3 separate regions of the Homo sapiens genome follow, and regions 2 and 3 are each linked to region 1. The links come from fine-mapping of genetic effects on gene expression. A gene starts in region 1. Each other region holds a variant in brackets. All regions are shown on one strand. Distances are from middle to middle.

Evidence for each region. PIP is the estimated chance that this variant, and not a neighbour inherited with it, causes the effect.
Region 2: its variant is fine-mapped to the expression of MYT1L in aorta (GTEx, PIP above 0.99). The same link has a PIP of 0.9 or more in coronary artery and tibial artery.
Region 3: its variant is fine-mapped to the expression of MYT1L in testis (GTEx, PIP above 0.99).

The regions. Positions count from the first base shown.
Region 1 is chr2:2,325,559-2,336,269 of GRCh38, reverse strand. It overlaps MYT1L (myelin transcription factor 1 like), which reads left to right and starts at 4,995. Exons shown (of 25, transcript NM_001303052.2): 1 at 4,995-5,303. It overlaps MYT1L-AS1 (MYT1L antisense RNA 1), which reads right to left. Exons shown (of 2, transcript NR_024468.1): 2 at 9,162-10,711.
Region 2 is chr2:1,804,225-1,814,935 of GRCh38, reverse strand. It overlaps MYT1L (myelin transcription factor 1 like), which reads left to right. Exons shown (of 25, transcript NM_001303052.2): 22 at 5,769-5,860. Among named protein-coding and RNA genes, the nearest start is that of PXDN, 65 kb to the right of the region's middle. RefSeq lists an enhancer at 10,331-10,711. The variant C/A (reference allele first, on the strand shown) is at 5,651.
Region 3 is chr2:2,180,470-2,191,180 of GRCh38, reverse strand. All of the region lies in intron 2 of MYT1L (myelin transcription factor 1 like), which reads left to right. Among named protein-coding and RNA genes, the nearest start is that of MYT1L-AS1, 130 kb to the left of the region's middle. The variant A/G (reference allele first, on the strand shown) is at 6,400.

The DNA of each region.
Region 1 (10,711 bases):
CTCAAGGGTGTGCAGGTAATGTGGAAAGTTTTGTTGCAATATGCGTATTTTTGAATTTATTGGGCCACTGAGGGTGAAATGAAAGGTATTTACTTTCACAAAATTGCAGACATTTTATAAAATTATAGACTTTGAGTAGAATAAATACCTTCTATAGATTATCTTAGTTTGCTGGTTATAATAATCTAAACCAGCAGTACCCAACCTTTTTGGCATCAGGGACTGGTTTCATTCATGGAAGACAATTTTTCCACAGAACGTGTCGGGGTGGGGAGGTGTTTCACCTCAGATCATCAGGCATTAGATTTTCATAAGGAGCACACAACCTAGATCCCTCACACACACAGTTCACTATAGGGATCACACTCTCATGAGAGTCTAATGTCGCCACTGACTTGTCGGAGCTCAGGCAATAATGCTCACTTCCCCACCATTCACCTCCTGTGGTGCGGCCCAGTCCCTAAGAGACATGGACTGGGGTTGGGCACCCCTTACCTACATCTTAAATTCTCAATGCTCTTTTAGATCTCAGAATTATATTTCATATTTATATCTATATATTTTGCCAATAAATAACCAGTTCTATAAAATCAGGCCAAGTGATCTGAATACAGATGTTTTCAACTCTACCTGCTCCAGACTCCCCTAATATGGGTTTATACTGAATAGAATGGTCAGCCTGGGATAGCTGCAAAAATAACGCATGAGCTCTGAGGTTCATGGTCTACCCCTTGTGGTCCAGTCATTTCACCGAGATTACACAACCAAATTCTATCTGACCACAACTATTCTTGATACCTCAGCTCTTCTTCATGATATGTCTCCTAAATTTCTTTCTCATTATTCTATTTAGCAAATTAACCACCAACACCTTATTTCTTTTATCTATTTGCTATTGAGTCACTCTATAGATGTTTTGATTAGTTGAAGCTAATTCCCTGTAATGAAAATGGGTTCCCCATCCTTATCATTGATAAATTAATAAACCACCCCCTCTCTGATATATAGCTAACTTGGAAAGTTGTTCCCCAATACAGTGGCGGAGGGCTATGTTAGTGCCTGATTTTGCATAGTGTACACTCTGATATAGTAATATCTGGATTCCAGGTTTTACCAATTTACTACCCAACTATAGCAATTCTATGCTGTTTGCTCCAGACCTAAATTAATCTCAGACTCCCTTTAGATGTCACAGCTCTCCATCACTGGTGCAGACATAATTCTGAAGAAAAGGTCATGAAGTCATCGTCATGCTTTCCATGAAGGTCTAGTTCCCGGCTCCTCACCTGGTGTGCAACATGGCACCTGAAGAAACGTCACGGCTCCTTTTTGTTTCTGGTCTCATGATGAGACCAGAGTCCAGAGAACAGAAAGGAAAGAGATTGAACTTTCTATACTATGAGAGATCAATCTATCGTTTGTTAAAGTGATCAGCATATGTATCCTACAGTTGGAAATACATCCTAGGTTATAACTTGTGTGTATTTCCACACAAAAAATTATATGGGCTTTTTTTCTTTGTACTAAATTGGAGGACATACCCATTAGAAGTGGCAATATGTTCCAATTTCTTTTCTCTTACAAATAAATAAATACATACATAAATAAACAAAATTAATGACATATGTATTTCCTAATACCAAGGGCTTTAACATGTGGAATAAACTAATACATGAAGTACAAAATATATTAGAAATAATTTAAGGAGGCAGGTGACAGATACTTAGAGACAAAACATTTGGTTATACGGTTTAATCGCAAACTACAGATTTTTAATCTAAATGGTCATTTGAGTATTCCCCAGTTCTTCTACATCATAAAGGATTTTATGGTACCTTACTGCAGAGTACTCGATATCATTTTTGAAGAAATCATACTGTATCAAGTGAGCTACAATGTAACTGCAAAATGCAGACTGCAGTGTTGCTCTGCTGTGGCTCTGTGGCTTCATGATTCATTCATTTTTCCTCTTCTCTTGAGCCATTTGAGGGCTGGTATCTCAGCTCTAAAAGTCATGCAGAGAATGGGTGGAAAGAATACAAATGCTTCACTGGAGCCCGATTCAGGCTGGGGCAGTTGTTGTCAACACGATGAGGTTGAATGAAATGCAGTGACAGTGTGGTAAGGGAAGACGTGTTCTTTAATGCTGCTGGGTCCAGGGATGCCTTACCTTAAGGGTAAAACATTAGATACTATGCTTATCAACACAGCAGCCTGTCATTGCAGTGAGTTACACCTACAGCTTAAGGTAACCAAAGCTGTTGAAAGAATATTGTGCCTGCGTGTGTGTGTGCAGGTGCCCCATATCAAATATACATTCTGTTTTCATAGACATGCACAAATGTGTAAGAAAAACATATACATGTATAAATCTGTGATTTAAAATATTGTGTCAGTATTATTTACAGATTTCTTTCTTCTTAATGTAAGGTAAGGTATGTGGGGGTGAATTTTAACTAAGAATTTATTATTAACACAACTATGATAAACTCATAGGGAATGATTACATGAATATGTGTGTATATATGTGTGTGTACATACATATATATTCATTTAATTTGAACTTTATTTTTTTAAGTACATTTGGAATTCCTTGGAAGTAATAATATAATGTATATGTAAACGCCTAAATAATACCCAGGAGGTCACGATTTGACCTAAACACTCGCATTTGCGTGGGAATTTTATTGTGCTCACTTTTTTTTTAGAGGAATGCTTTGTCCTTTACAAAATGGACAAATACTCCCACTGTACTGCAGTTCCAGTTCTATAATCATTTTGGAGGCGCTCTTTACCCCGTGGTGACCACAACACGAAGAACCGTCCTTACCCACATGCTGCTTGCCTGGGGAGCTCAGGATCAGTGTCTTACACACAGAAGGATATATGCTCCCATTTTTTTTCCGCCGACTGTAAATGACTCCTATTCTTTGCTCCACAGAACATCCGATGTGGTGCCCAATCAGCTGAAAAAGCTGCACAGACGTCATTAGTTCCGTGTGTGTGTGTGTGTGTGTGTGTGCAAGAGAGAGAGAGAAAGAGAGAGAGGAGACTGCAGCTGCCTTGCCGCGTGCCGAGTGGAGTCTCCATTAGGGCAGCGCTATTGATTTCTGATTCACACTGCAGCAACAGGGCTAGAGCTCAGAAGAAAAAAAAATCACGTCTCAGAAACAGGAATTACAAAGACAAAAATAAGTAGATAGATAGTTTTATACAAAAATCAAGCATCTGTTACCAAAGGAAAGCAAAACTGACAATTTAGCAAAATTTAAAGACTGTTTATAACATAGAATAAGATGTATAGGAGAAGTAGAGTAAAATGAGTTTAGAAAAATTATTCGTTCTAATTTTTCAACCATTTTTTTGAGAGGTGATAATGGTCTAATTTCCAGAATGCCTTGAAAAACCCTGGAATACTCGGCAGAGGTGCTGCAAAGTAAAGCTTATTTGAGGGCAATCTTGAAGCTATGCCTGAGAATTTTAAACAACAAAATATCCAAGATTTATTTTTTCAATTGTGTTCGATTATTTTATTAGCTAGTAGCTTTCTCTGTTTTAATTCTCTGTGTTGCATAATATCTAGGATACAGTAACAGGCTGGTTGCAAATGCTCGAAACAGAAATAGGTTTCTTCATAGGCTGTGTTTCAGCATGTCCAACTGTGAGCCTGTGAAGCAGAGCATCGGAGTTCTCTCGAGGTCTGTTGCTTCAGATTTGGTTAGAAATTATTGAATCTGGAGTGTAAAAATCTTGTCTGGGCCTTTTAGGCAGCTTGATTTTAAAACTAGCCCTTCTGCCCCAAGACTTATCAACCGCCCCCCCACCCTGTCCCAAAAGAAAAGCTGAAGTAAGTTCAGTGTTAAAATAATGGTGCTGTCAGGCAGGCAGTCTGCATGTGAGCAGCAGAAAATTAGAAGAATAGAACCATCCATTCTCGTTTCCCCCCGCGACATGCACGCACACATACGTGCACACACACACACACACCACACACACACACACAGACAACACCAGTCAGTGAAGGGGGAAAAGGGTGATACCTTTTTAAAAAATGAAAGGCAGTAAGCCATTATTAGCAAGAGCTATATTGAGCATGCTTGCCAGACAAGCAGCAAAGCTGAGCTCCAGTTCCGCCCAGACATGTGCCTTGCCATTTTCATTTTAATCAGCCTGCTCAGGATGGCTGCTGATTCATTTTGCAGGATGTCCCCCTGGGAGCCAAGGTGGAAGCCTGAGGCGAGCTGCTATTGCATCAATGCAGCACATCAGAGCGAGAGCGCGGAGGCAGAGGGAGGAGAGAAAGCCTTCAGCACCGCATCCCGATTTCAATATGGCTAGTTAGAAGGTCCTGCATGAAACCGAGTCTATTGCAGAAAACATAATGAAAGGAAAGGAAAAGAAAAAAGTCACATTGTCATTTCATTATCCAACTATTCTCTCCCCCAACCCCTTCTTGCCACCAACAGACACACACACGTACACATTTTACAGTGACCATGAAAGATTTCAAGCCACTCTGTGGAAGTGTGTGTGTGTGTGTGTGTGTGTGTGTGTGTGTGTACTATTTACCTGGTAACTAGCTGGGGTGGTATACCTGATTTAGCTGGAGACTTTGATTTGTAGGACTGACAACCTTATTATGCAGTGAGTTTATTATTGATATTATTCTGCTCTCGGTTGCCATGGCCACCTTGTGAGAGACATTCAATTTTCTCTCTTCCATCATCATTATCTATGAGGCCATCTGTTGTGGAAAATGAATTCAGCCTCATTTGCATGACTGATAAGCAATTTTTTTTTTTATCTATTTAACAGAAGGTCATATGCCGGGGATTTGGAGCTTGTGAAAAAAAAATGTGGAAAAAAAAAAAAGCCTAGGAGAGGATGAGTGGGAGCGTGTGCATGGGGGTGTGTGGAAGTCAAACAGATCCCTGAGGCCTGCGAGCCTATCGCGCTGCATTTGTCATTCCTGCCCGGGCGACATTTTTTTTTTCCCTAAGCTACTGCACACTAAACAGTGAGAGAGCTTTTCCCTGCAGTCTTGTTGAAGCACCCCGGGTTTTTTGCTCATTGTTGGTGGGTGCATTTTAATTTTTTCATTCCCTGGACTATGGGTTATGATATCCATACTCACTGAAGACAAAAAGCCACCTTTTCTGCGTCTTGGTGGCATGCATGTGTCTCATCATCCTTTCAAACTTGTGGTGGAACAGGGTTTTCTTCCCTGTCTGTGTATTTTGAGCCAGCACAGTTACCAAAATTGAACTTGTCTTTCGCTTGTGAGCGGTTGTGGTCATTGTGAGGTACGTGATGTTCGTTAGGTTAATTTTTCGGGGAACTTAGTGAGCAGGATGTGTTTTACCGTAGCTCAAGGGCTGAGGCTGCTATTCCATTGTCTGCTCCTTTTTAAAGTTATTTTTACAGCATGGCTGGTAGCTGAAATGTTCCTGGACTGGAGGCTTTGTAATCCACAAAAAAATCTGTCTTTAAACTAAAATGGGTATTAGGTTGCATGACTTAACTGTGATGTTGTTTATTAAGAAAAAAAGAAACAAAAACAAAACGGGGTGCATGTATGGTGTTTGGAGGATAAGAGGATACTGAAACAAAAACTTCCCAGAGACTTTACTGGATTACTTTACATTACAAATGAAGCACATCATTTTATGCAAAGGCAATTAAAATGTTAGCTATTTTGGATGAATTTACCTGATGGTAAGAAGAAAGTTGATTTATATTGTTTAAGTGGAGAAACTCAAATAAAGATTTTTAAATTTAACTTAAATGTTTGAAGTTCATAATAATGAAAGAAAATGTTATTTATAACAGAAATATGTCTTTTTGTAACACCTAAATTAATAAACTAAAAGATTAAACTCTACACTTTAGTTTTAAGATAGATCTGAATAAAGCAAAAATATATATGTAAATATTTATATGAAAGTTAGCTATATAAAATATAGAGAACAGATTTTGAATTTAGTATTAACCATGACAATTTCTTGTACCATCAAAGCTATATAAGCTAAATAATTTCTAAGTTACTTAGAGTAAAACTATTTTATATAAGAGCCTTTTTGTTCAAATGTTTATATTTTCTACTAAACAAAATTAACGTCATAGACCAAAGCATCCCAAAACCACCCTTACTGGCATATGAGGGTCTTTCTAATTGTTCATCTTCATTTAGTGTCATGTAGCTTTAAAAATAATAAAGTCATGTCTCCCATACAGATAAAAATGTAATTATTTTTAAAAGAAAAGAGTTTTATAAAATATTCCTTTTCAAAAAAAAAAACAGCATTGCATTCCTATAAGTTTTCACCTCTCAAGAACTTTGAATCCAAAGTGTTGATTGTAAGTTATAAATGCTACTAAGAGAAACATTCCAGAAAAAAAGGAAGTTTGTTTTTTCTGATTGACCTAAAAGAACATGTATGATTCTATCACCTCAAATGCAGTAAGTTAATTGCTTAAAAGTCTCCTTAAAGTTATACTTGAGTGATAAATTTTCTTTATTAACTAACATAGACCACTACTGATGTGTGTGTGTGATGGTACTTTACTTGATTGCACTTTGAAAACTCTTACCATACTATCATACACTTTTCATAAACAATAACAGTTGTTATATAATCCTTCTGCTTTTAATCAGCCATATTTCTTTATATTTTAGCTTGATTTTCAGAGAAATAAGTTTATTTTAAATATTAATTGTGCATTTAAAGAATTTAAAACAATAAAATTCTGATAGATTATGAAGATTATTTAAAGTGACATCAGCTTTCTCAGAGGACTATAAGAATCAGTAATATGAGATCTGGATCTATATTATAATATGAAGGATTATGTTGTTGTCTTTTGATCTGTACATATAGTCTTCAGATTCGTGAATCAAAATTATCAACATCTAAAAAAACCTATGAGATAGCACAGTTGATTTTTCTCTCCTCCCCACCCCCACCCACAAAAAGTTAATTACCAATCTTGGTTGGATTCTTCCTTGCCTCCCTGACATTTGACTGCTGCTAATTCACTGATTAATCTCATTAATGTGATTATAGTAGGATTTAGAGTTGGCTGCCATTGTTCTGTAGACAGTGCTATTCAGGCTGAGCACTTGCCACCTCATTCAGTTTTGCTGTGATTTTTCAAAGGCTGGTGGAGTGAGCTATTGTGAGCAGGCTTCTCTGCCTTCCCTTTCAGCACCAGGAGCTGTCCGCAGCTGATAGCGATTGCATTCAACAGTGACTGACTTCCTCCTAGTTTATTGGCAATGTGAAAATGGCTCACTTTCATCACCTTAATGATTGTGCTAGTTGAGGTAGAAGTAGGAGAAGCCTTCATGGTCACATTTGGATGTTTTGAAGATGGTGGCAGCAAAGATATCTATACTTGAACATTTTTATTTAGTAAAGACTTTCCATCTGCCATTATACACATATTTTACTCTATTTCCAAATATTCAAACATATCAATATGTTAAAAATTACTTGTATATATGTATAGTTGTGGGTTGGAAAATTGTAAACATTATTACTTTTCAACTGGAAAATTTTATCCAAATACATGTAATTATTAATAAAATTCATCTTTGAAAAGATGCACCAGGACTATCTGGTGTCACAGTAAGGTAGAAAGTATGCATGACACACAAATTTCAACTTCTCTTGAGTTAAACTTGCATCCAACAGCAGAACTTATGCCAATTTCACAAATTTGTGTTAGAAGCTGAGATCAAGGTAAAGGCCCAATGATTTGTGACCACATATGAGTGGTGTACAAAAATTATTAAAGGAATATGAGTACCTAGTCTTCTTCGGGGTTATAAAAGCTGTCAAAGCATGACCTTAGGACTATGTGGATAGTTTCAGAGAATGAGACTTCTTTAATATGCTGTTTTCACTGTCCCTGTTATGTTTTTCACCTAATTTATTTATTTATTTTTTACTCTCTTGAAAATGTTTCTATTTTGTACCTTACTCTTGAATATACCCAATTATTTCACTGTCTGATGTTTTCTGTCTGCTTTCTGTGTCAATGTTTAATAGATTAGGGAAAAGAAATAAGTGATTATGCAATTTCAAAGATTTGTAAAGTTTTTCTATTTGTTACAATTATACTTAAAATTAAAAAATTGAGTTAATAATCTGATTATTTGTTCAGCTGCTTTTATAAATACTTTACATTTATAATTTTTAAAAGCCAATTACTTCTCTGTGAAAAATTAATTTTGTCAAGTAAATAATGTTTTCAAAGTCACATGCATAAACTAGATTTCCAACTCTACCTGTAAGCCAATTTAATTTGAGGGAGAGACATTATTTTAGAAATACATAATATACAATCTGAAAGACTTTGTTTACTTGTTATATATTTTAGTGGATACATTTTAACTTCAAACAACTTAAAGGTTTATTTACCCTTAAATATTTTATATTAAAAAAAACTCCTCTGTGGAATTAGAGGGACTAGTCAGATGCTCTTTGATAATGACCACTCTGCTTTGCACTTACAGTTTGGTTTGGCTGGGTGTCCCTTTTAGACCAGGGCTATAATTTTCAATCAATAACCAGTGTTTCCAATGCATGTTGTCCTTTGCCAGGAAGTCTACCTTGATGCAAAGTCTCACCAGAACTCTGTTCAGGAGGCAAATGAATGGTAGACTCAGAAAGAGAGATCTACAGTTTTGGTAAATTTTTATAATCTAATTACTCCATAGCGTAATTTGAGCGCAATGATGTTATGCATTTTCCTATTTCAAGTTTTTAAGAGTTCTTTTTTTGAATATCTTCTTTTTTATTTGAAAAGTTGTGTAGTATTCTTTAGAAAGGAGTAACTGAGGATAAACTTGAACAAAAACTTGCAAATAACATATTTTTCACCAAGCTAAGTTTCATCATACTGTATTCTGTACCACAACACAACACCTGACATTGATCTGCATTTCTTCCAAACAAAACTGAAGACAAAAGATACCACAAACTTGAAGAAGTAAATAGATGTAGGTTTGTGTTTGTGTGTGTGTGGTTGGGGGCAGTGTCATATCTACATATCATGGTTGCTGGTATGAAAAAGATATTTTAAATTGACATACCACCCCAATATTTAAAATATTGCCTATAGTGACCATAACTCATATGAAATAATACAAATATTCTACTTTTATAGTATTTTATTGCATGATTTTTTCTGATATTAGATTATTTAAAGGCAACAGCTATCCATTTTTTCCATCAGTGGGCTATTTCAATGCAATGTGGTTCTGTTTGTAATATCTTTGTGTCTTGTCTCTTCTCTCTCTTTCTCTCCACTTTCCTTTCTCTCTCTTCTGCCCCCTCTCTCTTTAACTTGGTCCCTGTTTGTCTGTTTTGCCACCCTCTCTTCTCTCTGTGTTTCTTTCACACCTGCATTGTTCAAGCATACACAGTGATTTTTCTATGCATGTTTCTACAATGGAAGTGTTTTTGGCTTTGACATCATAATGAGTCCTCAGGGTATCTGTAGAAGTAATCAGAGATGGCAGAGAAAATGTAAGCCAGGTGTTATAAAACTAGAAAGAATGCATGAATGCTTATTTATTAGATAGAGAAAGAGTGATAAGCATTGCTGTATTAGGCTGTTCTGCTAGGAAAATTTTCCTACCATGTACCTCTTTTAAAATAATCTCTGCTCCCCACGTGGTGATTATTGGAAAAGTTGGCGGGGGGGAATATTTTAGTCTTACTGTAAGGAGTATTGTGTTGTGAGAAGATGGAATGGTACAGGACATTCTCTTAAAGCTTTCCTTGCTTTCAGACTGCAGTGGTGTCTAGCAGGGCTCGATGGGAAGGGAATTGCAGCCTCTATAGTAACCAGTAAGTCTGGTCCCAACACATCAGGGAAGAGCTCGGTCTTCAGAGGAATTACCTCTGAGAGCTGGAAGAGGGTGTTCCTGGTAACTTGGGGCTTCTCTGTCAGTCTCCCCACGGAAACCACAGTCAGAGCTGTGCTCTGTGGAAAGCCTGCAGTGGCTGCTCCCTCGTGCTGTTCTGCTCTCGACTCTCACTCACTGTGGATAGTGGGCTGGTGGAGTGCGGGCGCCAGAGGGTAGGGGTGAATGGAATGGAAACACAGAGGGAACTGTGACCAGCACGTGCGATGGTCTCTCCACGGCAGACAGAGCCCTGCGTGGGTGAGAAGCAGACTGCGGAACAGGATTTGGCTTGATGGCCACCAGCTCTTCCACAAAAAGGTACCTCTTTCCTTTTATTGTAAAGGTTACATAGGATTTCTTTTTTTCTTAATTTGCCTGGTGGTTGCAGCTCCCAGTTCTTCTCTTAAGTACTTCAAAAATAGTTGTTTCTCCACCTGCCTGCCTATCTCCAGCTCTCATTTGATTGCATACACAACACTTCCTAAAGTCTCTTGGTTAGGCGTGTGAACGCGCCAACAATGGACCCTCTCTCAAAAGAGCTTCTCCTTCAGTGTAATGCCATTGTGGGCACTGCTATGTCTGCATGCTGCCCGGAGTTGTTGTTAAACATGAGTCTGTGTATTCAAGGCTAGTTTCCTGGGGCGAGGGTGGGAGGTGCTAAAGTAGCCTTTATGATTTAACGTAGCCTTTCATAGCGGTGAGTGTTATAGGAGAGAGGTTTGCAGAGAGTGAAACGGTATGGTCACCACCAGAGTAAAACATCTGTGGCTTGACTCAAGAAGCCATTTATAAAAT
Region 2 (10,711 bases), 520 kb after region 1:
GACTTCCAAGCCTGTACTTCACTTCTCCCTGGAGCTCCTAGGTTGTAGGTAACAAGAATCCCCAAGAAGCAAGCCTGGAGCAGAGCCAGGGAAACGAGGTTCCACTCTCCACCCCACCACTAAGGAGCTGTTCGTTCATGGGTGAATGCTCTCCGCCAGGCCTGCACCTACCATTCTGCAAGCATTTAGTGCACTGTGGGAAAAAGAAAGTGAGACCTGCCCTAAAGAACTTAACTGAGCAGATCTTTAAAAATTCTGCGGCAAGACCCATAAAAGAGAAAGAGGCTGGGGAGCTCCGCACCCCCAGTGAGGTGGAGGCTGGGGGCAGTTTCTGCAAAAGCCGAATCCTAAAGGAAAAATCACTGACATGATGTCAGTCTGTTTCCATTTTCTATGCTGTGCATTTTTACTAAACATGTCCCATCTGCAAAGGCTCCTGGACACCGGGATACACATAGCAATGTGGTGGGCATTCCGAGGAACCACCCTCAGACCAGCAGAAGAGGAAAAGATAACCAAGGATGGGAACCGCCCATGTCCACGTCCCGGGAGGCTGCGCTCCAGGGCGCAGGGGATTCGAGGAAGGCAGCGCTGTGGTGGGCCAGAGCCTGGGCCTGGAGGGCCTCCTGGTGCAGGCCGGGCCCTGCTTTGTGGACAAAACAGTAAAGAGTTGGGAGGTCAGTTGGATGGGGACAGGGCGGGACAGCAAACTCAAGTGGGAGTGCCAGGGGCGTTCACCTAGCGGCAGAGAAGATCGCTGGCCTGGGGAATTCGTGAGTGGACAGCGGGAGGCAGCACGTGTGAGAAGAGCCCGTCGCAAAGGCCATCTAGGACAGCGGCCCCCAACCTTTTGGCACAAGGGACCGGTTTCATGGAAGCTAATTTTTCTTTCTTTTTTTTTTTTTTTTGGGGACGGAGTCTCGCTCTGTCGCCCAGGCTGGAGTGCAGTGGCGCGATCTCGGCTCACTGCAAGCTCCGCCTCCCGGGTTCGCGCCATTCTCCTGCCTCAGCCTCCCGAGTAGCTGGGACTACAGGCGCCCGCTACCACGCCCGGCTAATTTTTTGTATTTCTAGTACAGACGGGGTTTCACCGTGTTAGCCAGGATGGTCTCGATCTCCTGACCGCGTGATCCGCCCGCCTCGGCCTCCCAAAGTGCTGGGATTACAGGCGTGAGCCACCGCGCCCGGCCGGAAGCTAATTTTTCTACAGAAAAGGGGTGGGATGGTTTCTGGATGAAACCGTTCCACCTGGGATCACCAGGATTAACTTCTAAGGAGCCCGCAGCCCGGACCCCCTCGCAGGCGCAGTTCTCAGTAGCGTTTGCGCTCCTGGGAGAATCGAATCCCGCCGCTGACGTGTCGGGAGGCGGAGCTCAGGTGAGAATGCTCGCCCGCCCACTGCCCACCTCCACCTGTACGGCCCGGTTCCTCACAGGCCACGGCCGGGAGTTTGGGGACCCCTGCTCTAGGAAATATTCCAGCATCGGCAGCTGCTCTCAGAGAAGCTGCTGGAAGCTCTCCTGGGGGAGTGGGGGCAATCACAGCTGTGCCCCTGGGGCCATTTCTCAGCTGTGGGATGGAACGGATGGGACCCAGGCTGAGGCCCAGGGGCCTCGCTGAGGGAGAAAGAAGCACAGACCTGGACTGAAGTGATGAAGAGAAGGGAGGGGGTTCAGGCGCAAACAGCAGAGGCTGCTCGCTGGGAGGACGGCAAGGAGGAGGAGGCGTGCCTTTGTGGCCCTCCCTCTCTCCCCCCCACCTGCAGCTCCTGGCCCCTCAATGCCATTCGCAAACACAGGGAAAGTCGAAAGGGCTGCGGAGGTTCAGACGGCGGAAGGCCAGAGAGGTTCAGCGGGGGAAAGATGGGAGCTGCTCCCTGCATTTGTGAGGATCATACTGAGCCGGGCTGGGCCACACGCACCGTGGACCGACCAGGCGTCACCCTTGTCCTACAGTCACAGTCTTAGGACCTCTGCAGGAGGCCCTCACCCCAGCCCTCCTCTCATCTTAACCCAGGGCGGCAGCTGCATTCAAGAGTCTTTTTTTTTTTTTTTTTTTTTGAGACGGAGTCCTGCTCTGTCACCCAGGCTGGAGTGCAGCAGTGCGATCTCGGCTCACTGCAACCTCTGCCTCCCGGGTTCAAGAGATTCTCCTGCCTCAGCCTCCCAAGTAGCTGGGATTATAGGCACCTGCCACCACGCCCAGCTAATTTTTGTATTTTTAGTAGAGACAGGGTTTCACCATGTTGGCCAGGCTGGTCTGGAACTCCTGACCTCATGATCTGTCCGCCTCGGCCTCACAAAGTGCTAGGATTACAGGCATGAACCACCGCGCCCGGCTAAGAGTCTTCTCTTAACTTGGAAGTCCTGCAAAATCCTGCCGCAGGCCTCTTTGAGGGCTCAGTCTGCACCTTCCAGAGCCTGGGTGCACTCACACTCACCCTGGGCCTCCACTCACTGAGCCATCACAAAGTGCATTCAGACATTTTATGCTTTCAGAAGTCGTCACTGGGCACCTATTCCATCTCCAGCACTCTCCCATCATGGGGATACAGAGCAGTGAACAAAAAAGTGCATTTTAATCCTTGCCCTCAAGAATACACATTCTTTTCATTAAACTTCACAAACACAGTCAATTCAATATTTTATTCTCATTTCATAAGTGAGCAAACAGGACTGCCTAAGTCTTTCCTAGCCAGTTCCACGTCTTATGTGCGTTAGAGCATCAGGGGGTGCGGTGTGAGGTCCAGTGGGCCTCCTGGTCTCACAAAGGACTTGCCAGATGTAGTCACCTGACTGCAGAGTCTACCTGGATGCGGGGGCCAAAGCGCAGACACACCTGCAGGAAGATGTGTGTGACAGCCACAGTGTGTCCAGTGGCAGGAAGGGGAAAAGTGGCGTTAACATCCAAGCATCCTATTTTAGGAGAGCCTTAACAGATCTTTTGAGAACTTCTTATTTTACAAATGAAAATATCCAGCTCGCCTTCAGAAGCAGATTTACGGATAAGCTAGGGAAGCAGAAGTGTCAGCCCCCACCCCAGCCGGATTTGCAGGGCGTCCTGCTGGGATCTGATGGGGAGGCAGGAGAAGACCCAGGAGGGTGCCCCGGAGTGGGGACGACTGCCAGGTTGTTGCCCAGGCCCCATCAGGGAGGACTGAAGAGGAGCCTGTTCCCTCCGGAACGCGAGGGGTTCGTTCACGCCCCACACTAAAGACAGCTTGAGTAGCACAGGGATTTCCGGTGTAAACAGCAGCAGGCAGGGTGAGAGGATCCATCAGAAGCAGCAGTGCCAATGTCTAGTAACAAATAAATGAACAAAAAAACAGCAAAGGGAACCACGAGCCAGGACCCCCTCAGGGACTGTCCGGATTCCTGGGGATGCAGTCAGGGCAAGCAGGAGAAGCCAGGGCGCCCACCGTGCCCACCCTGTCAGGCCACCCAGTTCCCAGAGGCCTCTCTGCTCCTGGGGCTTCCCGTGCGGCTTGCCCTGGGATGGGATAGGACGCGGGAGCTGATGATGCTGGAGCTGATGACGCCAGAGCTGATGACGCCAGAGCTGATGATGCTGGAGCTGATGACGCTGGGGTTAAAGTCCCCGCTGCTCCTTCTCCCACTGAACCTAGGAACATCATCAGCAAACACAGCAGTTCACAGCCACAGAGTTGTGGTATGAGCAACAAATACTGGTGATTGTCTTAGACGTTCCAGGGCTGCAAAAACAAATACCATACCTTGGGCAGCATAGAAACCAGAAATTTATTCCTCCAAGTTCTGGAGACTGGAAGTCCGAGACCGAGGCACCAGCAGATTCGGCATCTGGCAACTGCTGCTCTCTGGTTGGTGGACGACGCCTTCTCACTCTGTCCTCACATGGGAGAAGGGGTTAAGGAGCTGTCTGGGTCCCTGTTATAAGGGCACGGATCCCATCACGAGGCCTCCTCACTTCCCATACGCCCCTTCTCCTAACACCATCCCGGTGGGGGTCAGGATTTCAGTGCACGAGTTTTCAGGGGACACAGTCAGGCAACAGCAATGATTATTTAGAATTTTATGAATATTCTATTATAATTATGAGATGCAAACATCACATCAAAAAAATAACAACTTAGACCTGTGGTGTGGATGAAGAATACTGGAAATATTTTTATACAAAGATAGGATTTCCCCAAAAACAACCACTAATATCCCCAGTTGAAAATGTATTACGATCAAGTTCTTCTGCTATGAATTTTCCTGTTTTCTTAAATTTTAAAAGAAAATGTATTACAAAAATAATATTTAGAAAGCTTAATTATATTAATGCAGATATTAGAGATATTTCTAATAATGATGTAATCTGCCTGCACTAGTAAAGAGTGTTTCTAGATATATCACTAACACATCATCACACCACTTACGGACACGGTCCATCTAACACTTCATATACAGGTGAAATACAATATTATGTATAGAGAGAATAAACACATATGTCATATACATATATAAAACATTATAGGCGGGGTGCGGTGGCTCATGCCTGTAATCCTAGCACTTTGGGAGGCCAAGGCGGGCAGATCACCTGAGGTCAGGAGTTGAAGACCAGCCTGGCCAATATGGTGAAACCCTGTCTCTACTAAAAATACAAAAATTAGCCAGGTGTGGTGGCACACACCTGTAATCCCAGAGGCTATAATTCTGTAATCGGGAGGCTGAGGCGGGAGAATCACTGGAACCCAGGAGGCAGAGGCTGCAGTGAGCCGACATCGGGCCACTGCACTCCAGCCTGGGTGACAGAGCAAGACCCTCTCAAAAAAAAAAAAAAAAAGCGTTATATATAGAAGTTTTTCACCTCACCCATAGTTAAGTGCCAGATGGCCCCTGGCCTTTAGCACAGTGAGGACTCCAGTTGACCAGCACGTCCAGGAGCCCCTGGAAGGGAGGGAAGGCCCCTCGGAGACTGAGGAGTTGTGAGGAAGCCGAGGCACGGGACTGCATGGAAGAGGCGCTCCGCACACAGGACACGCCATCTTCAGCAAACACCCAACAGGACAGAAAAGGAGGCAGAGGTGCCTTCCTGCCCCGGAGGCTGCCAGCCACATCTGCCACATACACTGTGAAGAGCTGAGACGCATCCTGACGTCGACAAACCAGTGGCTGAGAAAAGTGAAGAGACACCTGGAAAGTTTGAAAACAGACTGAATAGCTGCTGATACTAGAAAACTGGCTAAAAATTGTAAGTGAGATAAGGAGATTGCAGTTATGTTTTCACCTTTGAGACTGGGGAAGCAGGAGGGGCACAGGTGACTAGCCTTGAGAGATAACAGCTGAATTTGGGGTGAGTTCATTATTCTGCTGTCTCTACTTTTGTATATTTGAAATTAACTTTTAAACCCAACCTTTCTATGAGCTTGATGCTTTCCATAATAAAGATTTTTAAGCAATATTATCACTCTACAAAAGTTCCAAAAAGCTCTGAAAGTTATACAATGAAGGGCAGATTTCCTCTGCTCTCAGAGCCCCAGCTCCCAAGACCCCCCGCCAAGAGGCAGCCCCAGCCGAGCACCCATGATCAGTGCTCACCACATGCATGAGTGCACACACATGCACCCCATGTGTGCATAACTGTCATACTGTATGCATTGGTCTTTTTGCTTTTTCTCATTTTCAGA[C/A]AGCCTTTTGCTGGCAACCAACCTAATAATGCTATTCTACGCCTTGCTTACCACCACTTCCCTGCAGGGCTGGGACATTAGACAGTTGACTAATGGCCGTCCTGTGTCTTGTCCACAGCTTGTCAGGATGCCCGAGAGCCACGTCAGCGATGAAGAAGGCAAAGCTTTCTGGAGAGCAGATGCTGACCATCAAACAGCGGGCCAGCAACGGTGAGCACCCCTCCAGCCCTCGTGGCACCCATGGTCAGGAAGGCCCAGCGGGCACGGCCATGCCAGCTGTGTGTCCTTTGACAGTTACAGCTCACTTTTCTTAGAAAGCAGGGGCAGAGATAATTCTGGCCCTCTCATCTATAAAGCGAAGCAACTTGAGAAAAAGCAGTCTTTCTCAAAACCGTCTCCCACCTTCACCGATTTCACTGCTCACCGGAATCATGAGCCCAAGTCCTGAGGGTCTCTCCAGCACTGGACGATTTACTCCCTGGAACCCCAGTGTGCCCACATTTCTGCCTGTGTCCCTCAGGCCCTCATCCAGGGTTTCTCCACCCAGGAGCAGCTTTGGGGCCACCCCAGGCCACAGATAACAAGGATGGCACCCCCTCCCCTGTCGCCCTCACTCTCTGCATGTCTGGTGCCTGATTTTCTTGATTCCACCTGCAAATCTGTTTTGTTCTGAGGGTCTCTCTTGTCACCAACCAGCACAGGTGTGTAGAGAGTTCTGCAGAGGAAAACTGGGGGCCTCTGGAGGAGCAGGAGAGAGGAGAGCCACTTAAGCCCTTAGAAACATCCACAGTCCACCCTCATGATCTGGGGACTCTATTTGCGAGGTCACCTCCCTGCCGAAATTAATTTGTAGACGCAGGCAATGATCTCAGTGCTTTTGTAGTTAGTCCTGTGCACTCGCAGAGCAGCTGAAGTGTCTGGTGTTCCTAAGGGCAGGGGGCTGTGATGTGCCTCACAGAGAAAACACACGCTAGCCAAGCTCCCTTCAGACAGGAGTCATGGTTGTGACTGTTGGCTGGGAGTTTCTATGTTAAGGAATCCACAGTATCTATTAAATAGGTTGTCTTTAAATGGGAGCACACATAAAACAGGTGTATTCGTGCATTCTCACACTGCTATGAAGAAATACCCGAGACTGGGTAATTTATAAAGGAAAGAGGATTAATCAACTCACAGCTCCACATGGCTGGGGAGGTCTCAGGAAACCTACAATCATGGTGCAAAGGGAAGCAAATGTGTCCTTCTTCACATGGCGGCAGGAGAGAGAAGTGCAGAGCAAAGTGGGAAAAGCCCTAATAAAACCTCCAGATCTCATGAGAACTCAGTATCAGGAACAGCATGGAGGTAACCACCCCCATGATTCAATTACCTCCCACCAGGTCCCTCCCACGACACGTGGAGGTTATGGGAACTATAATTCAAGATGAGATTTGGGTGGGGACACAGCCAAACCATATTAACAGGGTTTTTTATTGATCGATTGACAAAAATGGGACCAGAGGGTGGCAGGAGCTTGGCCCTTTGTTTCCAAAAGCAGTGATTCTGCTCTCAGCCTGTGTGCAGTAACTTTATAGCACATGGCTCCTGGGAATAATGAGATCAGCTGTAACCTGTAGCCATTGAGCAGACTGGTCCCCTTCACAGCAGAAGCCCAGCCTCCCCTTCTCAGCTTTCACTTGCAAGATGCACCCCTAATTTTGTATTTCTAAATGGAGCCTGCAAACCTCTTCAAGCACCACAAAGCACGGATGCCCTGGGCTGAAGGCTCCCAGACCTATGATGCACAGATCCACCCTACAAAGCTGAACCTGGGCAGAACCTGGCACCCTCCTGCTGTACCTTTACCAAAGGGCACCTCCTCCCCAAATCCACCAAGAGTGAGCCACACCTGAGCAGCTCCCAAGCATGCAGGCATGAAGCCCCTGGCCACAGCCACGGGGGTCTCCTCTCATCTGACTGTTATTGGTGGTCCTGAGGACAGCATGAGAGACGCCTGAACGTCCCACGTGTGTGTACCTGCAGGACTCCCTCTGCCAGCAGCCAGTACAAACTATTCCTCAACATGTGGCCCATTGTTCACCAGAAAGGTCATCAGCTTCTTGACATTGGTCCTCAAGGTCTGGGGCTCCTGGAGGCATCCTGTCCCCCAGGCTGCTCCTGTCTCCCAGGCTGCTCCTGTCAGTTTCTGCCTTCCAGAATACCCTGACCCACCCTCACAACCTCTCCCTGTGGATGCAGTCCCAAGCAGCCAGTGTAAGGACCCCGCTTTTGAGACACCAGGATAGCCAACTTTCGCTTTCTAGTTATTACGGAGCAGTGCTCCTTGCCAGAAAGAAAACATTCCCTAAGCCCCATCTGCATGCCGGGCGCTTTTCAAAATACTTAGAGGGCATTTCACCCCCGAATAACCCTGGATTAAAGTGGAAATCCTTAGACAATTGATCCGAGTCCACGTGCCTTTGTTCCCCATTAATGAAGGAAGTGGCGGTTAGGTTAGGTAGGCCAGTTCAAAACAGAAAAGGAAAGAAAATACGGAGAGAACAGATCTGCCAATCCTAGAGGAGGGGCCATTCACACCTGGGCTGGTCCACCTGGGCGGCGGTGGGCAGATCCCTGAGGTGGCCATCTCTTCATCGGTGGGCCTGAGTCGGCATTGAGGGCACTAGACATTCCTATTACTGCTGCACACAAGGAGTTAATTCACAAAAACAGGTGCTAACTCGGAGGGATAAAGATAAGCAGTTGGTCTGTGACTCTAAACTAGAGGAACCAACAACTGGGTGTCATCCCACCAGAAAGCAGCCGGGACACGGGCATTCCAGGGCCACCGTCCGCCCGCTGGGCCCAGCTGCTGCTGCTGGGCAGCCTTCAGCCAGGTCGCTGCATTTCACCCAAGTTTCTAGACACACAGTTCGTGTTGTGCTAAGTTTTAGGACAAACAGTTCCCCTTGCTGCAGATCCTAATGCACGCACGTCCATGGGTAAAAAAGAGGAGCTGCAGGTCACTGGGAGAACAGGTGGTGGAAGTGGGTCTTCCTAAGTCCAAGTGTGTGCTGATGCCTGGGGCTGTCGATTCCTGACACTGTTTGCACCAAACTGAGATAGTTCTTTCTTACCCCCAGAGCACAGTTGTGTGCCCAGGCATCATTTCCATGTCTGTGTAGCTAATCCAGGAAGGGTCCAGGGACCTTTCCTGCTGCTCATCAGGGGACAGAGGCACAGCATCCAATTCCTGCGGCTCTTCAGGGGACAGAGGCACAGCATCCAATTCCTGATGCTCTTCAGGGGACAGAGGCACAGCATCCAATTCCTGATGCTGTGGTACCATTCTTTGCATCTGAAGCTCTGTGTTCCTGTTGCCCTTGCTGTAGATGTGGAAAAGACAATCCCTCTCTTTTTTTGGACTGGGTCTCGCTCTGTCACCCAGGCTGGAGAGCAGTAGCACCATCTTGGCTTACTGCAACCTCCGCCTCCCAGGGTCAAGCGATCCTCCCACCTCAGCCTCCTGTGTAGCTGGGACTACAGATGTGCACTATCACACTCAGCTAATTTTTGTATTTTTGGTAGAGATGGGGCTTCGCCATGTTGCCCAGGCTGCTCTCAAACTCCTGAGCTCAAGCAATCCACCTCCCTCGGCCTCCCAAAGTGCTGGGATTACAGGTGTAAGCCACTATGCCTGGCCTTAAATATTTTACTATAGATGAGGTCTGACTATGTTGCCCCCTGTGTTGCTCTTGAACTCCTGAGCTCAAGCGATCTGCCCACCTCAGCCTCCCAAAGTGCTGGGATTATAGGCGTGAGCCACCATGCCCGGCCTTCTTTTCTTTCATATCCTGAGTGTAAAGCCTTTCCTGGGGTCATTTTTATACCTTCAGTGTAACAAGAGTGCGCAGCAGCTTCCCTCCATGTGAGGCCCAGACACTGTGTGGGACAGAGAAGCCACCGGAATCCACTGTGAGGCACTGACTCGGCCAAGAAGGACCCTGGCACTGGATTTTAGCGCTTTCTCTTGAGCATTTGTCTGAAAGGGAAGCAGCTATTCTAAATGTCCTTGAGGTTCCCTTCTGGCTCTAAAGTATTTTTCTTTCTTTCTTTTTTAAGTTTAGGGATGAGCCTGCTCTCATGTCTCTGCCCAACAAGGATCACCTTATTTTCTTTATCCGTGGAGTGATCTCATCACGCATTAGTACTCAGCTCTGCCTGAGCAGCCGGCGTGGCTGTTAGTGAGTCTCCCTTCAGAACCCTTTTGCAGAAGTTCACTGTATGCCTCTTAGCACCTTGGCACCTTGGCTGAAGTTGTACCATCAGTGGCTTTTTGGCGGGTAGTGGGGGCAGGGGCAGTGTTTAGGAGAGAAGGAAATAAGATAATGCTTTTTCTTTCCTTTTACTATCACAGCAGAAAGCAAGCTAGGGAAAGGAGCTCTAACCTCCATCAAGCCCTGAAAACATGAAGCGCTTTGTCAGGAACTTCACCTACTTATTTCGCTTAATATTCCTGAGAGCTCCAAACTGTGGGAACTCACGTTTCTATTCAGCTGTAAGGAAAAGGAAATTCCAGGAGGCATGGAAATTCCACCAAGCCATTAGTGAGAGTGACCAGCGCTGGCTGGGTTCACCATGGGACACTGGTCTCTCAAGAGCTACCAGGATCCTGAAGTAAATCAAAATCTTCCAGGACCACGCTATGCTAATTTGAGTAGGATTTGTTTGCTTCTTTGCTTTGGTGTCCAGTGGGTGGATTTTCTGGCTCTGAGATGCTGCTTTTTGGCTGGGCCCTCCCTGCTCAGGCCAGTTTTTTATAAAGGCAGTTTCTCCTGACAGCTTGCAGGCCAACTGGTGGAATGTATTATAAAACCCTAGTTGTGGCTGGGCGCGGTGGCTCACGCCTGTAATCCCAGCAGTTTGGGAGGCTGAGGTGGGCAGATCACCTGAGGTCAGGAGTTCAAGACCAGCCTGGCCAACATGGTGAAACCCCATCTCTACTAAAAATACCAAAAATTAGCCGGGTGTAGTGGCAGGCACGTATAATCCCAGCTACTCAGGAGGCTGAGACAGGAGAAT
Region 3 (10,711 bases), 150 kb after region 1:
ATGCCTAGGGGTGGCTTCTGGAAGTTCCCTCTGCCTGACACATAACCAGTGCACCCTGCCGTCTTCAAGCAAGACCTCACTTAAAACAACCTGGACAGCCAGGCGCGGTGGCCCACGCCTGTAATCCCAGCACTTTGGGAGGTTGAGGCGGGAGGATCACCTGAGGTTGGGAGTTTGAGACCTGCCTGACCAACATGGAGAAACCCTGTCTCTACTAAAAATACAAAATTACCTGGGTGTGGTGGTGCATGCCTGTAATCCCACCTACTTGGGAGGCTGAGGCAGGAGAATCACTTGAACCTGGGAGGTGGAGGTTGTGGTGAGCCAAGATTGTGCCACTGCACTCCAGCCTGGGAAACAAGAGTGAAACTCTGTCTTAAAAACACCACCCTGGACACATAAGAACCTGCCATACGCTTGATCATGGCAGAAGAGTCAGAACATTTATTACAATCACCTATTCTGAGTATGAACAGGTTATCTCATTCATTCATCCATTCACTTATTTATGAGATGTTTAAAAAGTGCCCCATGCAGTAGACACTGTGGTGATACTGAAGGAATCCAGGACACAAGTACTTTCTTCTGTGAGCTTTCTTCTTCTTTTTTTTTTTTTTTTTTTTTTAACAGGTCTTGCTCTGTGGCCCAGCAGGCTGGAGCTCAGAAATATTAACATCTGCCTGAGACAGATCCCCAGGAAGTCTAAAGGCTGGGAAAAAAAAAATAGGCATACAGACAGTTTGGTTTCCTTCTCATTACACCATCTGGTGTGATCTCGGCTCCCTGCAACCTCGACCTCCCAGGCTCAAGTGATCCTCCTGCCTCAGCCTCCCGAGTAGCTGGGACTACAGGCGTGTGCCACTGCCTGGCTAATTTCTGTATTTTTTGTAGAGACAGGGTTTCACCATGTTACCCTGGCTGGTCTCAAATCCCTGAGCTCAAGTGATCTGCCTGCCTCATCCTCCCAGAGTGCTGGGACTACAGGCATGAGCCACTGTGCCCGTCCTTCTTCCAATAAGAGGAAAAGTAAATAAATAATTAAGAAAATATTAAAAATCAGGGCCCTAAACATGGGAAAACAGCAGGGCCAATACAGAAAGCGAAGGATGAGCCCTATGGGAGAGAGGAGAAACACTGAGGTGTTACCTGGGCTTCCTCTCAGAAAAACCAGCTGTGCAGTGGCCCTGAGGAAGGGAGAGCTCGGTGTGTGCACACAAAGAAGGAACTGTGTGGTCCCGAGAAGGCGCTTCTCCCCGTGCGTCCTGAGAACGCTCCTTCTCCCCGTGCGGTCCTGAGAACGAGCTTCTCCCCGTGCGGTCCTGAGAACGCTGCTTCTCCCCGTGCCGTCCTGAGAACCCTGCTTCTCCCCGTGCGGTCCTGAGAACGAGCTTCTCCCCGTGCGGTCCTGAGAATGCGCTTCTCACCGTGAGGTCCTGAGAACGCTGCTTCTCACCAGGTTCAGTTACAAGGGCTCTTCATAGGCTTAATAGTCTGAAGCCCTCGCAGAGATTTTGTTCATGAAAGTTATAGCTACCACATTAACAATTAAAACTAAGATATTTTAAAACATTATTTGCTTTTTAGTTATTAAAAATATTTTTAAAACCCAGTACCTGTTAATATAAGTGATTATATATTTATGAAAAATAATATTTTCCATAAAAAAGACATTTATTGAAAGAGCGTCATTGTTTCACATTTAGCAAATGTCTTTCATGCGTGTCTTAATAGAGCAGCTGAATTCTCATCTGCCTCTGCACTTAACATATTGCATAAGTTGTTTTGGCTGAAGCATTTGAAGATAATCCAACCCCACAGATGATGTAGTTGCATGAGGGAAGACCCCCGAAAGGCCATGAAAGGGTGGAGGGCACCCCCACAGGCTCACGAACCCCATTTTGGGAACTGCTCCAGGAGAACATTGTGAGCAACACAGGAGTCAGGAGGGATGAGGAGGAGCCGCCTCTTACGCTGCGGTGGCGGCATGGCCAGGAGTTCAGGTTTTGGAAGCCCCAAACGCAATCAGAAGCTCTTATATAGTATGATGCAATTTCATTTTTAGAACGATGGTCCTGCTGCTGTGTGGAGAATGCACTGGAGGGGAAGCAATGGATTGGAGAGGCTGGTTAGGAGGCTATGTTCTTGGCTACGCTGGGGAGGAAGGCGGCAGCAGCTCAAATTAATTTCCTCTCCCTGTAGTCTCGCAGAGTAAACACGCTCACTTGAAGCATGTGTGAGAGGAGAAGCTTCCCAGGTCTTCAGCAACCATCTATCCTAGGGAAATCAGACTGTGGCAGGACAAAGCTTTTGTATTTTAATTTTGCCTTGGAAGTGGATTTCAAAACTCACATCACTCAAAACTCTGACCCACCTGCATTTGGCCAGCTTGTCAGCAAGATGACAGCTTCTTCTCTCTGATTTTCTTAAACTCCTACCACTTCCCATAAGCAATAAGCTTGGAAAACATGAGCATCTGCCCGAGACAGATCCCCAGGAAGTCTAAAGCCTGGGCAAAAAAGGGAGAGGAAGGGAATACACAGAACATTGGATTTCCTATTAGGGCTGCACCCTGGCTTTCATTATGCCGTCTGTCTGACTCTTAATAGACCTAGCCCAGGCACACAGATCAGGACTTATTTTCTAGGCCATTTTAAATAGATTAGGAAATGTAAAGGTCCCTTAAATGACATAATTTGGCATTAAGCACTGCACACGCTTGTGCACGGCTCCTATCGGCGTGAGCGTGTGCCTGCTGGTAAGTTCGTGCATCCATCAAAGCTCAGCTTGGGGGATTGGCAGTGTGTGTTCCCCCAGCTTGAAAGGAGATGCACCTCTTAATTCCACATCCAGGTGCATAGCACCCCACCAAATAGCAGAATCGTTTTTAGAATTCTAAACAAAACAGTTCCGAATTCATGTTGTTTTGGGTTTGTCAATATTACCATTAACTTTCGGTAATACTGAGTAATATGCCTTTTTGTGTTAGGTTCATACACAAATATAGGTGTTTTGCCATGGGAAGGAAGTGTATGTGTGTGTGCATGCATTTGTGTGTGTAATTTTTAGTAGTAAATGAACCATTTATTTTTACTGTAGAGGCTTTATTCAAAGATGTTAGAGCTTGCCATTAAGTGTTATTATGCCAATCTCTAAAAAATATTTTGCACTGAACATTTGTTATTTTAAGGTAGACAGAGGCAAATATGCATATATATTTAATATAAGAGAATATAAATGATAAATGCATACATGTTTATTATATATATGGAGAGAGAGGGATAATCTGAGAACTTTTTTTCAGAATGTTCTTAAATTGCTTAAAAAGAATTGGGGATAAGAACAAAGAATGTACTCATAGGTGTATTGAGACTTGTGGGAGCCTTTGGGAAATGCTGTGAGCAGAGAATAACAGCTTCAAGAACTTATCCAGTAAGATATATTGGCCAACTAAACAGCCCAGGCTGAAGTAGGTATACCTGTGTTGAATTCAGCCATGAATGCAATGGGCCTCTGGAAACGTATTTTTAGCCAGCGTTTAGGTACCAGGTCCCTCCCTCCCTTCTAAAATTATTTTTTAATTCCCTGGAGTGTGCCCCCTTCTGCCACTCATCTGCTTGTTTGGTGCCTGTTCCTTTCCACGGGGGCGAGGCTGGCTTCCTCCCTCTGCCGCTCATCAATACTGAGCTGATTTGGAACTAAGCTGGGTAATAACATGCCTTTCAGCAGCCAGCCCCGCACGCGCCGTGTAATTAAGGCCTGATGGTTGTGTTGACGGCGAATGAAAGAAAATGGCTTTGTTCTCCTTCCCCGGGCTTGATTGTGGGTTCTCGCTCTCACCTGAATTCGACCCACTCTGCATTGTGCCCGTGATTGCTGGAGTGCCAGTAATTGCTGTCCTGGCAGATGACATTTCCATGAAGCACTTTCTGTGCAGCTCCAGAGGGAACGGACAGAGCTGATGGCTGGGGGAAGCTCATCAAAGGCAGATTTAGGAAAGGCCTCGGTGGAAGAGGGAGCCCACGACCAAATATAAGAGCATCTCCTCTGACATTTGCTTGTCTGTCACTCACTGTGCCTGCAACCTGCTTACCCTAGGCCTGCAATCCATAAAGACTGGATTGTGTGAGGATGAATTGCTGTTTAAGTTCATTAAGGCCAAGTTTCGATCATACCTTTTTTAGAAAAAAATTCTTTATTTTGTTTTCCAAAAGGAGGATCAGAGCAAATAGAAATAAATGAAAGGAACTTATCTTCAGAAGATGATATTGCACACAGATCTTTTTAAATCAGTGCCAATAAAGACCAAGGTGAAGATTAGGTTACATTATAAATTGATCTTAACCTTGCTACAGACACTCATGTTAATTTATAATGCAAAGTTTACAATATTTTCGAATTGGAATTTAAGAGTTTATTCGTTGTAGAATTTTATAACAATCTGTTAATTATAGATTTTTGATTCTGCGATGCTTATGCAAAAATTGGGTCAAGAGTTAGTAAGTGTAGGCATCCAGAAAAACCCAAGGATCCTTATTTACTAGAGGGAGTGGCGGGACATGGGATGGTTGACGGGTCTGCAGAACGTGACTTCTTGGGGAGACATGGAGACTTTACAAATGCCTCTCGCAGAAGCTGCTTCCCTCCAATGGTAGTGATGGGGGCAAAGCTAAAAACGTAATTCCAGGATGGGTGCATGAGATTCTCCCTATTATCTGTTCATCGAGGTCCATATTTCTTTTGCGGTGAGCACGCTATCTTGGCTTCAAAAAACGAAAAACATTAACAGTGCGGGACTACAGTTAACCAGTAAGGACCGCAGGACTCGGGAAGGCCCGGCTGCGTCCCCCTCACATAATGACCGCGGAACTCGGGGAGGCCCGGCTACGTCCCCCTCACGAAAGGAACGCGGGACTCGGGAAGGCCCGGAAGGCCTGGCTGCGTCCCCCTCACGTAAGGAACGCGGGACTCGGGAAGGCCCGGAAGGCCTGGCTGCGTCCCCCTCACGTAAGGAACGCGGGCGTCTGGGAGGCCCGGCTGCGTCCCCCTCACGGAAGGAACGCGGGACTCCGGAAGGCCCGGAAGGCCTGGCTGCGTCCCCCTCACGGAAGGAACGCGGGCGTCTGGGAGGCCCGGCTGCGTCCGCCTCACGGAAGGAACGCGGGACTCGGGAAGGCCCGGAAGGCCTGGCTGCGTCCCCCTCAAGGAAGGAACGCGGACGTCTGGGAGGCCCGGCTGCGTCCGCCTCACAGAAGGAACGCGGGACTTGGGAAGGCCCGGAAGGCCCGGCTGCGTCCCCCTCACGTAAGGAACGCGGGCGTCTGGGAGGCCCGGCTGCGTCCCCCTCACAGAAGGAACGCGGGACTCGGGAAGGCCCGGAAGGCCCGGAAGGCCCGGCTGCGTCCCCCTCACGTAAGGAACGCGGGCGTCTGGGAGGCCCGGCTGCGTCCGCCTCACGTAAGGAACGCGGGACTCGGGAAGGCCCGGAAGGCCCGGCTGCGTCCCCCTCACGTAAGGAACGCGGGCGTCTGGGAGGCCCGGCTGCGTCCGCCTCACAGAAGGAACGCGGGACTCGGGAAGGCCCGGAAGGCCTGGCTGCGTCCCCCTCACGGAAGGAACGCGGGACTCGAGGAGGCCCGGCTGCGTCCGCCTCACAGAAGGAACGCGGGACTCGGGAAGGCCCGGAAGGCCTGGCTGCGTCCCCCTCACAGAAGGAACGCGGGACTCGAGGAGGCCCGGCTGCGTCCCCCTCACGTGTGGAGGCCAATCAGGTGAATATATTAGTTTGCACGCCACACAATTTGTGGTGAGTTACTCATATTTGAACAGAGCTATTAAAATACAAGGAAGTAACAAAAACCACACAGTACTGAATGACTAGTTACATTTTAATTAAATAGCACAAATATGTTATATAAGCTTTGTGTGTTGAAAGTGCCCTCATTCCCATTTACCTTCAATGTGTTTGCTATTATTATTATTTTTAAGTCTAGGCCTTTTATAAGGAGGCTTGTATATAAGAGTGGAATGCTTATTAGGTGCAGAACAGAGAGTTATTGGATGGATATGGAAGAGTTGCTGGCTGGTGACTGGAAGGTTTGCAGCATGAGGGCATTTTCTAAATGCAGGAGCTGTGCTGTCTCAGTGGATCCTCTGACAAGCCTTCTAAAGTAGACGCAATTACTATTTGCATTTCAGAGATGACAAAAGTAAAGGCCAGAGAGGTGGCGAAGCTTACCCGAAGCAATGCAACTACTCATGGGGTGGAGCTTTGCACAGTTGCCAGCTAAAGTGCCGAGCTGCGGCCTCTCTTGGCGGGTCCCTTTCTGGGTAGCTGGAAACCTCAAGCCAACCCCAACCACCGATTTAGGCAGGAGTCTCTCCTACAACTGAAGCTGACGG[A/G]TGAGGAGAGGCTTATATCATCACAGGAAGAGAACAGAGCTTTCCTCCCACAGCTGGGGAAATCTGCCGGCTCTGCTGGAGAGGCCGCCAGCCCATTGGTGGGCGTGCGGTGCGGGGAGGCTTAGGCGGGAAGAGGAGGTCTTGCTCAGATGAGTGTTATTCCTTTGTTTGGACAGAGGAGGTTGGGCAAATTGGAGTGTAGGATATTTTTGCCTGGAGATTTTTACTTGATGAAATCATCCCATGAAAAAAATCCCCAATTTTTAAAAGCATGCTACTTTGACACATTAAACTCATCATTTTAACATTGATAGAAAGTATTTAAAATGGGCCTTTGCCTGAAAATAAACGTCAGTGGATTGGAAGCACTGAGGGCCTTCGTCCGTTCTGTCCCAACCTTTATGGGCGCTGCACATTTTCACTGTGGAATCTACAGGGACGAACTCTGTCTTGTGTTTACTTTCTACTTGTTTCTCTTGAACACACACATGCATTAACACTGTAATGTATTTATTACTTTGTATGTCATTAATAAGAATATATTTAGATAATATTGAAACAGTATGATTTATTAGTGATTCCTTCTAGGTAGATATCAGCTGTGTTTTTTAGACGTTTAAAATTGTGAACAGCCTCAGCATGACCTACATTATTCAAGCCATCTACCTCCTTCCCTTCTTTTCTTTCCCTCCCTCCCTCTCTCTGTTTCTCTCTCCCCTTTTTTCTTTCTTTCTTTTTCTTTTTCTCTCTTTCTGTCTTTCTTTCTCTCTTTCTCTTTCTCCCTCCCCCTTTCTCTCTCTCTTTCTTTCTCTTCTTCCCTCCCTCCCTTTCTTCCTTCCTTCCTTTTTTCTTCCTTCCTCTCTCTCCTTCCTTCCTTCCTTTTTTCTTCCTTTGTCTCTCTCCTTCCTTCCTTCCTTTTTCCTTCCCTCCTCTCCTTCCTTCCTTCCTTTTTTCTTCCTTTGTCTCTCTCCTTCCTTCCTTTTTTCTTCCCTCCTCTCCTTCCTTCCTTCCTCTCCCTCCTTCCCTCCCTCCCTTCCTTCCTTCTTTTAGTTATATCTCCAAAGTATTTTTTCTAGTATATAGTTTGCAAGAAACTACATGTGGGATTCTGAATTGTCATATGCTGATAACTTTTACAGAGAGCTGCAACTATGAAGAATATGTGCTAAAATATGGATCTCTACCTCATCACACTGAGAACCTCATCATTACCTTACAGGGCCATCAAGTACAGCATGATTTCAAACATTCATAATATTACTCTCTTGCAAGCTTTGTGCACTGGAAGGATGTTTCTTTTATACTGCTTCTAGAGTCATGGAAACAAAGCAAGCTTTAGGAAACAGGATGGCTTGGTTCCAGGCTCCTTCTCTCTTCCTACCGCCTGGCCCCACCCTTTCTCTCCTCCCCTCCCGTGGGAACTTATTCTCCCTGCACAGAGGTGAGCAGCCTCTCTGTGACCAGGCTTCACCCCAGCAGCTCTCTCGTGGTCTACTTCCCCCAGGTTCGTTCCTCTCTGTCTCTTCCCCTCCTCTCTGTTCTAAAACAGCAACCTGGCTCTTCACTACTCTAGGGGAGGCCAGGAGGTTCGCTGGGTCCTGAGGGATACAATTCAGGCTCCCCCAGGACTTACCATCCAAACACACCCTTCCCTCCAACTGCTCCATGCTTTTTGTGTTACTGTTTTCTGTCCAGGAGATCTCCCTCTGTGACTCACCATCCATAGCCTGATGACATGACCTTCTCAAAGCTCAGCTGCTGCTCCTCGGAAAACCTCCCCACCTCTGTGGCAGAGTCCGCTCACCTCTGCGTAACCCTGAGCACTGTGGGCATCCCTGTTGCAGCCTTCCTTACTTAGAGGAGAAGCGATGACCTCCCTCCTTCTCTCCCCTGCAACTCTGTCCTGCCTGGAGGCCCAGGCTGTGCGAGTCTTTATCTACTGTGATGTTTATCCATCTCAGTCCCTGCCATTGTGGGCCGCGCTGGGACTGCACTGCTCTTTGGTGGTGTTTGGTAGGAAGCCAGCAATTCCCAAACCACTGCTCCTTCCCCAAAACCCAAAGGGAGACATCCACAACAAACAGTGGCCAAATGAAAAAGAGAGCATGCCTTTCTGGTTAGCTGCAAAGCGCATGCTGTGCTTTGAAAAACCGACGCAATGCCTGCTTCTAAGCCTCCAGCCCTCCCTAAATCCTCCATCCAAATCCAGGCAATTGCTACTGTCTGGCTTTCTTCCTTGTGAAATACAGACTGAAAATGAGAGAGAAAGAGTGTGGGGGGTACATGGGTGTGAGAGAGGGACAGAGAATGAGGATAGATGCTGGCCATACTATTGCAAACATCTTCCTTGTTCCATGAAAAATTAATATCTTTTTAATCAATAGTGACTCAAAATATCAGCTAGCCCAGAATCATTTGCACTTATAAAGGTAAATTCTTTTAAAAAAGTGTTCAAGTAACTGGATTTCCAATGGAAGGGTTTCAGCGATTGGCATGGGTACTGTTCTAACAATCTGGAGGACAGGCCCTTCCTAAGCCACTGAAATCAGATCCTGCAGAGAGGAGGTCACCTCTCCATGGCCACAGTTCCAAGACACAGTGCGGTCAGAGTGGGGCGTGCTGTCCGTGGCCACAGTTCCAAGACACAGTGCGGTCAGAGTGGGGCGTGCTGTCCGTGGCCATGGTTCCAAGACACAGTGTAGTCAGAGTGGGGCATGCCATTCATTTTTGCTCTGAAAGCTTGTTACATATGGGAGTTGGGAGGTGACTGCCAGGGTGGACACTTGTCAATGTCCAGCCTGGAAACCTGGGTCCCCATCCCAGCTCTGTGACCTCAGGCAAGCTACCTTTCTGAACCTCAGTTTCTCTCTGAAAATAGAGCTAATAATATCTCGGTTGCCTATTCTCAGGGTTGTTCTGAGGATCAAATGAAATAATGAGCATGGAAGTGCTGGAACGTGGAAAGTCCTTTTTCTCTCACTTGGAAGCAGTTAGTTGGAGGATGTATTTATGCAGATGAATCTCACTTCTCGGCATGCACCCTCCTGTGGTTGCTGTGTGAAGGAAAAGGCTGCAGGTTTAGAGAGCAGGGGAGCACCCCCAGTCCTTGGCACTGCATCCGGGAAGACAAAGCGCTTCCACGTGGTCAACTCTGTCACAGATGAAGGGCCTTAAGTACACTCATGCCCCTACCATTAGGATTTTCTAGTTGAAATGTGTGGCTGTGCTTTAAGTTAAACTCATAGCACATTTAAATCACACTCTGCATCCACAGCCTCTGACAGACGGTAATTTCTATATATTTTAAGAGCGGGGCTTACTGCTAGAATTCTGATTTTCTTCCCAAGGACTCTCTGAAAATTGAGGAGAGTTCAGCTAGCAATCAGTAACATGATTTCATTCATGAAGTTTCTGTGTGTCAGAGACAACAGAGAGCCAGGTAGACTCTCATGTTTTCAGTCTCACTTCACAGACACATAGGTACACACACAGGTGCACGCACACGGGTACACACAGGTACAGATACATGTGCACACACAGATATACACAGGTACACACACAGGCACAAACACAGGTACACGGCACACATAGATCATAGGTACAGATACATGTGCACACACAGGTACATACTCAGGCACAGACACAGGTACACAGGCACACAGGTACAGATACATGTTCACACACAGGTACACAGGTACATACACAAGCACACACACAGGTACGGTTACAGGTGCACACACAGGCACATGCAGGTACAGATACAGGTGCACACACAGGTACATACACAAGCACACACAGGTACACACACAGGTACGGTTACAGGTGCACACACAGGCACATGCAGGTACAGATACAGGTGCACACACAGGTACATACACAAGCACAGAGGTACACACACAGGTACGGATACAGGTGCACACACAGGCATACACAGGTACAGATATAGGTGCACACACAGGTACACACAGGTATGGATACAGGTGCACACACAGGCACACACAGGTACAAATACAGGTACAGGTACATGCACAAGCACACACACAGGCACACATGCAGGCACACAGGTACAGATACAGGTGCACATACAGGTACATACAAAAACACACAGGTGCACACACAGGCATACACAGGTACAGATACAGGTGCACACACAGCTACACACAGGTACATAAGCACACACACAGGTACACACATAGGCGCACACACAGGTACACACACGGGCCCACACAGGTACAGATACAGGTGCACACACAGGTACACACACAGGTTCGCATACACCTTCAGGCACAGTTTCCACACACCCACATCGAGT